Linked DNA regions of Homo sapiens: region 1 is linked to region 2. The links come from fine-mapping of genetic effects on plasma protein levels. Region 2 holds a variant in brackets. A gene starts in the other region. All regions are shown on their reverse strands.

Region 1 (4,397 bases), not on the chromosome of region 2:
CAGGCAAATGAAAAGTTATTCTGTTCAATTAGATTTGGCGTATTTAGCAAATAAAAATATGGGACTCCTAGTTACATTTGTATTTCAGATAAACAGTGACTACTTTTTAAATGCAATTATATCCTGATATGGCTCCATGTCTCCACCCAAATCTCATCTTGAACTGTACTCCCATAACTCCCATGTGTTGTGGGAGGGACCCAGTGAGAAATAATTGAATCCTGGGGACAGTTTTCTCCATACTGTTCTTCTGGTAGTGAGTAAATCTCACGAGATCTGATGGTTTGATAAGGGGAAACCCATTTCGCTTGGCTCTCATTCTCTCTTTGCCTGCTGCCATTCATGTAAGATGTGACTTGCTCCTCCTTGCCTTCTGCCATGATTGTGAGGCCTCCCCAGCCATGTGGAACTGTAAGTCCAATAAACCTCTTTATTTTGTAAATTGCCCAGTCTTGTTACGTCTTTATCAGCAGCATGAAAACGAACTCATACATATCCCAAGTATTGTATGGAACATAATTATAGTAAAAATTATTTGTTTTTTATTTGAAATACAAATTTAAATGAGACCCTTGCATTTTATCTGGCAATCCTCTACTGAGTGTTAGGCACTGTGCTAGGTGCTAGAATAATGTGAATATGACATAGTTCCTGTCTTCAGAGAGAGACGTAGAAAAATGTAACATTTTTGGCTACAGATGAGCAATTAAATTCAAAATACTCTTTTCTGAGCATATCTTTCCAACCACAGGAAACAATACTTCAGAGTCATCAACAACATCGTCACCTTTGAGCATGAAGTATATTTGAGGTTTATTCATATTTTGAATTAGTCTGAAATGACACACTGAATCTCGAAGCTATCCATATCCCACTGAACCTTCCTTTTGTTGATGAGCATGCTGTCCTCAGAGAAATAAAAAATAAGCCCTAACCGCTCCCTTCCCTAAAGATACTTAGATCATTGAGGAATACCATCAAAGGGACAGGATGTTTCAGTTCACTGTGATCGGTTCTGGAGTGAAGGAAATCCAAGTGTTATTGATGCACATGAGAGGAACACCCAGCCCAAATGTGGGAGGTCAGAGAATACCTCTCAGTAGATGTGGCACCATACTCTACAATTACAAGTTTACAAAGACCCTGTAGTGTGGATTAACTGGGTATAGTTTAAATAAATAATTTAATTTAATTTAAATAAATTGATATAACCAATATATCTTCTCCAGAATATTGGAGAAATCTCTAACCAGGAATGACTAAGCACACATTGAAACACATCCAATCCTCTTCTATTGTCATCCTGTTCCTTACTGTTTGTTGGTCGTTCATTTGGCAAGTCCTTATTGACAAATTGGTATGTGACAAGTGCTCTGTTAGGCATTGAAACAAAATGAAGAACAAACCAGGCTTGTTCCCAAACCTTGTAATACTATCTAATGAGAAAAATAGGCATTATACAATCACATAAACATATAGAGAATGATAAAATTTGGTGACTTCCATGGGAGAAAGAACATAATAATATTTGTTAAAAAAGAGGACCCTCTTTCCATTACCTGCCAAGGTTGGGCACCCTGAGGATGGGACATTTGATCTGAGATCATCTCCCATTTCTAATGTAAAGGTATCTGAATGATGACAACTTTATCCTGGTAGGTAGATTCCCAAGAATGGCTTACCTCTAAGTCTAAAACACGCCTTCCTAACAGAAGTTATATCACCTTCAAAGGGGCAAGAATTGACTCTTGGGAAGATGAAAAAAACTAATTTTTTAATGTATCAAACACAGCTATACATGCAGCACATAAACACATACATAGTATATTTGTGGTATTAAATTTTCATGGAAAAAGGGGGTGGCTAAAAACAAAATTGTCTAAAAAAGATCCTTAGGGGAGCAATAACGAAAAAATGGTTGAGAAACACTGGTTCAGAGTTTTTATTCAATAGTCCCTCAAATAATACTTACTAAAGGAATGCTTTCAAGAAAGAACAGTTAGAGGTGCGGGGGATATAAGGGGTAAGAAAAGGGGCCCTTAAATGTTAGTGGGAAAGAAGACACGAAAGCAAACAAGGAAATAGAGAAAATAATTGCAAATTGTTATAAACACTGTGAAAAAAACACAAAGGACCTGAAACAAAATAATGGGGTGGAACCTCTTTGATTGCAAAGCCCTTTCTGAGAAGGGCTTTGGCTTTAAAAACGGTGGTACGCTTGCTGATTTATCTCCTAATTTGCAGATCTGGGTGAGATTACGGGAAGTCCTTGATCTGTACATTTGTATTATTTTCCTGTTCAGAAGCCTCATAACAACTTATGTGAAAGTCAAAAAGGCATATGCTTGACACCTTGACTGTGTGATTCACACCACGCTCATTAAGCTTGCCTACATTAGGAGCTGCATGCAGAACCAAAGGCTGTGTGAAGACAAGGTAGTGAAGGGGTTTCCCATATGAAAAATACAGAAAGAATTATTTGAATACTAGCAAATACACAACTTGATATTTCTAGAGAACCCAGGCACAGTCTTGGAGACATTACTCCTGAGAGACTGCAGCTGATGGAAGATGAGCCCCAACTTCTAAAAATGTATCACTACCGGGATTGAGATACAAACAGCATTTAGGAAGGTAGCCACATTCACATTTTCAGAGCCCAAAGCAAAATATGACACTAAGCTCTTCTTCCCTTTTCTGATTCTTGCAGGTCTCATCTGAGTAGCAGCTTCCTGCCCTCCTTCTTGGAGATAAGTCGGGCTTTTGGTGAGACAGACTTTCCCAACCCTCTGCCCGGCCGGTGCCCATGCTTCTGTGGCTGCTGCTGCTGATCCTGAGTGAGTAGATGGGCTATAATGGGGCCACGGCCTCAGTTCCTAAAGGTGACCAGGGAAAAACTCAAGGAGCTTCTATCTCTGCTTCTACTTGGGGTTCAGAGACAGATAGCAAGGGATGGGAAGTGAGCAGAGCTGGGTTCCCTGGACAACCAAGAGGCTCCAAATGCAACCATCAGAGCAAGCCAGATATCCTGACCTTGGTTTCTCACCCACTGCTTTTCTCACCTCATAGGAAACTTGGATTTTTCCTTCTGCCAAACCACAACTCTATATCCCACCCTCCCTCTTAAGCCTCAGACTAAATAATTTTTCAGATGAGCAGTTACTTCTAAAAACCTAGGCACGTGAAGGAAGGTTTACTGAGAAACATCACTGTTTTCTAGAAGTTTTAAGCCAAAATTTAATCAGAGATTGAAAAAGTGAGGGGAACAATAGGAGCCCAAGGAACGAAAGGAGGATAAACCATTTCTGTAAGTCCTTGTCTGCCTCTGCACTCAGAGAAGAGAAGGAGAGAATAAAGTGTGCCGTGGCCAAGTAAATAATAGCAGAGATGAGGTCAGGCCTTGGACATAAGCCATCACGTTTGTAAAATACATTATATGACATTTTCTTTGTTGTTTAGGGGCTCTGGATGATATAAAAAGGGAGCAAAGAAATGATAAGGAAAAACAAAAGAAGTGGTTGTGGTTAGGTTGTTAGAAAATGTTTCGGAGAGTGTCTGATTGTCATTTTCTGCTCCCTCACAGCTCCTGGAAGAGAACAATCAGGTAAGTTTCTCCTTCTCTCTGCCCCTCTGGTCTCTGGATATTGGTCCCCTCAGCCCACACAGCCTGCCCTAACCCTTGCAGGCACGCATCCCATCAGCAATGCTAATGCTCTGGGGTCACATCTGCTACTATATTGGGTGAACAGAGCCTCCTCCGACTTTTTCAGTCTCTAGGTTTTTTTTTTTTTTTCTCCCTACATTACCGGTATTCCTCAGACTACAGGAAGGAAACACTTGCAGAGCAAAGGACAGAGGCAAGAGGCTGATGATGAAGGAATCTCATATGTGATCTCCATATTCTCTAGTACATCTCCCTCTGAATGTCCAAGCTAGTGCTGCTATCAAAGGACATAGAAATAGATCCCATCCACGGAGGAAGATGCTACAGCAGAATCCTTATAAATCTCCAAAAAGAGCTCATGCCACTGCCACACCTCACTTCCATGCCTGTCAGTCAGTTGCAATTCCATACACAAGTCTGACTTCTCAGGCAACCCATCCTCCTCCATTTAAATTCTTTATATCCCTCCATTGTTTACTGTGTCCAACTTAAATGGAGAGTAAAGTTGCCTTCCCCATAGACTTTCAAAGCTAAGAGAGATATAAAAGTAATACAAGTGAGAAAATCTTATTCATTTTAAGTGTTAACAAGTAGGAAGTAATTTTCTGGAGTCTAGAAACTACTTCTGAGGTATATACATCCCAGGTTCACCTTTATCTGGACAGAAATGTATAGGACAAGAGAATTTCAGGATCAGCCACATTCTGAGGCCTTCGCAGTTTTTGCCCAATGG
Region 2 (4,397 bases):
ATGGTGCTGAAGGGGTGGAGTGGTGGAATTTTCTATGAATTTGCTCATCTGAGTGGGCCCCGCAGGAAGAAGCCCAGCTTTCTGGTCCTAGTTCTATTGCCGGCTGACTAGCTATGCAATGGTGGCTAGTCACTTGTTTTCCTGTCCCTCCTGCTTTTCCTGGTTGTCAGATGAATGTTCTGGCTTATGCCATCTTCAAAATCTCAATGTTTTTGTCTTTGCAGGGGAATCTGACCTTGGTTCAGCCATCTGATGAACCAAGTTCATCTCTTGCATCTTCTTGGCAGTCTGTCTATAGAGCATCTTCTCAGGTTAGGCAAGGTGGAGCTATGTGATTGAGGGAGGGGCTTTTGACTTGAGTCAAAATTAGGCTGCCTGGGACAATCATGGACCATGCCTGCCATACAAGCTGCATTTTTAATGGTACCCCTTTAAATATTTGTGCTCAGATCTCAATTACCCTTGACAATGTAGAATGCAACATTGGAATGTTTGACAATGCAGGAATGCATGCAAAATATAATTTTAAAAAATATCAGCTGGGCGCAGTGGCGTATGTCTGTAATCCCAGCACTTTGGGAGGCCGAGGCGGGTGGATCACCTGAGGTCAGGAGTTCAAGACCAGCCTGACCAATATGGTGAAACCCCATCTCTACTAAAAATACAAAAAATTAGCCAGGCATGGTGGCAGACACCTGTACTCCCAACTAGTGGGGAGGCTGAGACAGGAGAATTCCTTGAACCCAGGAGGTGGAAGTTGCAGTGAGCTAAGATCACGCCACTGCACTCCAGCCTGGGTGACAGAAGAAGACTCTGTCTCAAAAAAATATATATCATATTTGGCCCAGATCTACGTTTTTTGCCTCCAACAAGTTTTCATGAGGTTAAGTTAAATGTGGGAATTTATTTCAGACAGTCTGCAAAGTGGATAGCTCACTAGAGCAAACATACAATCACCTGCAGGCTGACTGTAGTCAAAATAATCTACTGTCACCCTGAATAGGTTTTCTCACATAACATCTACAAAAACCCAGCATACCATTGTCACACCCACATGGTGCCTTCTGATATGTGACATTAGAAAACCTCAATCTCCTAAAAAAAATCATAAAATAGTTTCAGTATATATGAACTCGGCACACGTTTTTGTTCAGTGAAACTTCTTTCTTTGATGATGCCTGTTCAAATATTTGCAAATATTGAGAAAACGCCCACATAAATCATCCTCTGTTGCTGAGGCCACACAGTCTGCAGAAACCAACAGGTAAGACACAAAATACTGAACGCCACTGGAGGTCACGCAAATTCCAGGAAACCTCAGGCCATCTTAGCCTTCCTCTCCCAACCCCAATCTGTTAGTTTCTAACCGAATGTGCTAGAGAAGCCAGCCAGAGCACCATGAAAGTCAGCAAGAAGGTGAAATGGTGAGAGGAGGAGGGGCCTTTGGTTACATCTCTTTTCACCTCTCACTCTAGATGTGAAGAAACTCAGAGGGGGCTGCGGCATCCCAAGTCGGGGAGGCCATGAGGACCACTAGAAGCAGGCCTGGAGGTGTGGTCTCTGGGGCTGGGCTCTGTCGCTGCCCTCTGTACCCCAAAATGCCTCTGAGATGCCCATGTAACCTCCAGGGGAGCCCAGGAGCTTCACCTCCTGCAAATGGGGAGAGATGGACAGTAGGAGAAGAACAAGAGAGAAGCAAGAAGCAAATGGTAGGAGAAAACACAGGATAGAGGGAAGAAAGACCAAAGGCCGGTGAGCAGAGAAAAGAGGTGAGCATCCAGGGCCCAAGAGCTGCTTCAAGGTCATGGAAAGCCAGCCTGCACCTGGAAGGAAAGGTCCTTGCAGAATAGAACTTAAAGCAGGAAACAGAGAATTAAGCGTGGCAAACAAGAAACGCCCATGTGCCTGAATCTATATCATTCTAAGTCAGTGTATCAGACGCCCAGGACTCTGAAAAATCAGGGTTCCCAGACAAACCCAACACTTGGTATGAGCAGCGCTTCTTTATTATAAAACTAACATCACTGAAAGCTTTTTTTTTTTTAAAGACCAAAAATATCACATCTTAGGCAAATGAGTTGAAAATCCCTCAGAGTGACACCCTATTTTTTTTCCACCCATTTCTAAAGTCAGAGGACACCTGGTAAAGAAGCTGGTTTTTAGATAAAGAAATGCAATTCCTGGTGCACGCGGTTTCCTGGTGGTA[C/T]AGCACTGAAGTGACATCATGGAAATATTTGTACCTCAAGGTCAGTCTGCAAGGTTTCTGTGTGAAAGCATGAGTCTTAGTGGTGGGAAAGTATGTGTGTGCACCTTTGTGATCTGCTGCTGTTTACTGCTCTCTGCTTCAAAGACAAAGTTTTAATTAAATCCAGGTGGGCAGCTTGCCAGGGTTTTCCACACTTTTGGCTCACCTAGGTAGGCAGCCTAAGTGCAGGTTATACCATTTGGAAATGCCTCTGCTCCTGTCACTTGGAAGGAAATAAAACAACTGTTCCTTGGGGCGGGGGGTTGGGGGGAAGAAGCTTGTCTTCCACTCAAGGGCAAGGAATCTATGACATAAGATGCTCATTCTGGTGGTGAATATGAACAGTCTAATTTGTGTAGCATTCCTTAAGGTGCCAAAAGTAGGAAGCAGCAGACTGGGAACGTATGGAATCCTTTGTCTTAATTAAAAATATAGTGGGAGATGTGGAATTTGGCCAAGCCTCATAAATCTGCTAAAAAAGCATCAAGACTCCATCAGATAAGTTTAAATAGAACCAACTGAGCCCTCTGGAGAGTTAAACAGATTCCCCACTCATGTGGACACCCACTCTCCTGTCACTTTCCCGCACTCCGCAGGCAGCAGTGGTGCTCGTTAACCAGCAACCCTCCAATTCGCCTATGACAAGCTTATCCCCCTGGAGCACACGATTCAGACATGATAAATTTACTCCCGCTTGTAAAAATGAAACTCTCCTCAGGGCAATAAAAACGCTCTGAGCCTTTAGGAAATAAGTTCTTTATCTGATAACCTACCTTCATTAACAAAGTCTGGTCCTCTTGGTCAGGACAGCTCTTCACTGCTAGGGAGAACTGCTCTAAGGTAACTGGAAGGGAAGAAATGGAAATTGTGAATGACTTCACTTCCGCCTCAGAGCCCTTCTGATGTGAAGGAGGACACTGTGGTTATAACAGACGTAAACAGCATGCTGTCCGTCCTTCCTTGGTGACATGGCAGAGCTCCCCAACTGTCCCCTGCATGGGTCAGGGGCCCCCGTACAGTGACTTCTCCACCCCATCAGACAGAGTCATTACAGTAGAGTACAAGGCCATTCCCATCAGCAAAGCTCCTCCCTAAACTGCCAGGAGGTCCTGGGTTCAGCTTCCTTTTGGGTCATCTTGTCCCCAGAGATGACACTCTATCTCCATTTCCTGGGACCTTCATTGAGAAGACTCCACCTGCCTTTGTAAATTTGACAGTGCTAATTTAAAAAATCTCAATCTTCCATCATGATTTCCATGGCTTTAACTCTTCTCTTGGTGTATGGCCCCAAGTGTTGACTCAAACCCCACAAACTCCCCCAAATATATAAAGTCGTCTTTCTCCAACCAACCTTCTCAAGGAGAATAGGGAAGAGAAACCCAAGAAGATTTACGAGAAAAAAAAAAAGTTTTAGTAATCCATTGAAATTGGCCATGAAAGCTCTAGGAATATTAATCTAGAAAATTTACAAAATTACATTCCCCTTCTCATATTTATGGCCAGGTTCTCATCAAAGGCTCACTTATGTGGTGACCAATTTTTATTTTGGTGTAAGTCACAGACTGCCCTCCTGTAGGCTGTGTTGACTACATTGTTTCATGCTTGAAAATGCTCCCACAATTCTCTGCCACCCTCAGATTTAAAACCACTTATTTGACACGCATTAAGGCTTTTACTAAGTTAACCCAACTAGTTTAGCCTTTGATTGCTATACTCAAAGCTGCGTTCACTCTTTACCCTCTATGACCTTTCATTGCTCTCTGCTGGGAAGAGTTCTGCCTCTTGTCTTTGAGTAGAGCAAAACTCAGTCCTCCAACTGAACATCCCAAGCCCACCCATCCAGCCAATAAAGACATTGATTGCCCTCTGGTCCCATCCCAACTCCCGCAGATCCCACAAAGGTGGGCAGAGCTAAACTCAGCCTCAAGGCTGAGGGACAGTCTGATTCCAATGATTTGACCTCAAGCATGCCTGGATGTCATGTCTACAAATACAGATATTTTAAAGAGAACTATATCAGCAATGATGAATTTTCATCAAGAAAATATTGTCTGGGTAGGTTGTTTGTAGTTTTCAATGTTACTCTAAAATAGAATTCCTTAGACTGCTTTCATCTCTGACTAAATTACTCCATGCCATCTTGACTGCTATC

Direction of the effects. Alleles are on the strand shown, and positions count from the first base shown. The strength of an association depends on the size of the effect and on how common the allele is.
For the plasma level of the protein whose gene starts at base 2,527 in region 1, T is the low allele of the variant in region 2 and C is the other (weak association).

Evidence for each region. A credible set is the group of variants that fine-mapping cannot tell apart. PIP is the chance, under the fine-mapping model, that this variant and not a neighbour inherited with it causes the effect. Protein levels are from antibody-based Olink assays in UK Biobank. Linkage for the fine-mapping came from a reference panel and not from the study's own genotypes, which makes the PIPs less certain.
Region 1: FCRL3 starts here. The variant in region 2 is the best candidate, but not a certain one, in a credible set for the plasma level of the FCRL3 protein (UK Biobank, PIP 0.72).

Annotation. Positions count from the first base shown.
Region 1 is chr1:157,698,899-157,703,295 of GRCh38, reverse strand. It overlaps FCRL3 (Fc receptor like 3), which reads left to right and starts at 2,527. Exons shown (of 15, transcript NM_052939.4): 1 at 2,527-2,634; 2 at 2,711-2,837; 3 at 3,584-3,604. The coding sequence starts at 2,807.
Region 2 is chr2:111,047,910-111,052,306 of GRCh38, reverse strand. ACOXL (acyl-CoA oxidase like) reads right to left here. Exons shown (of 18, transcript NM_001142807.4): 16 at 3,019-3,089. LOC124907866 (a long non-coding RNA gene) reads left to right here and starts at 2,130. Exons shown (of 2, transcript XR_007087182.1): 1 at 2,130-2,246. RefSeq lists a silencer at 2,161-2,455 and an enhancer at 2,161-2,455. The variant C/T (reference allele first, on the strand shown) is at 2,207.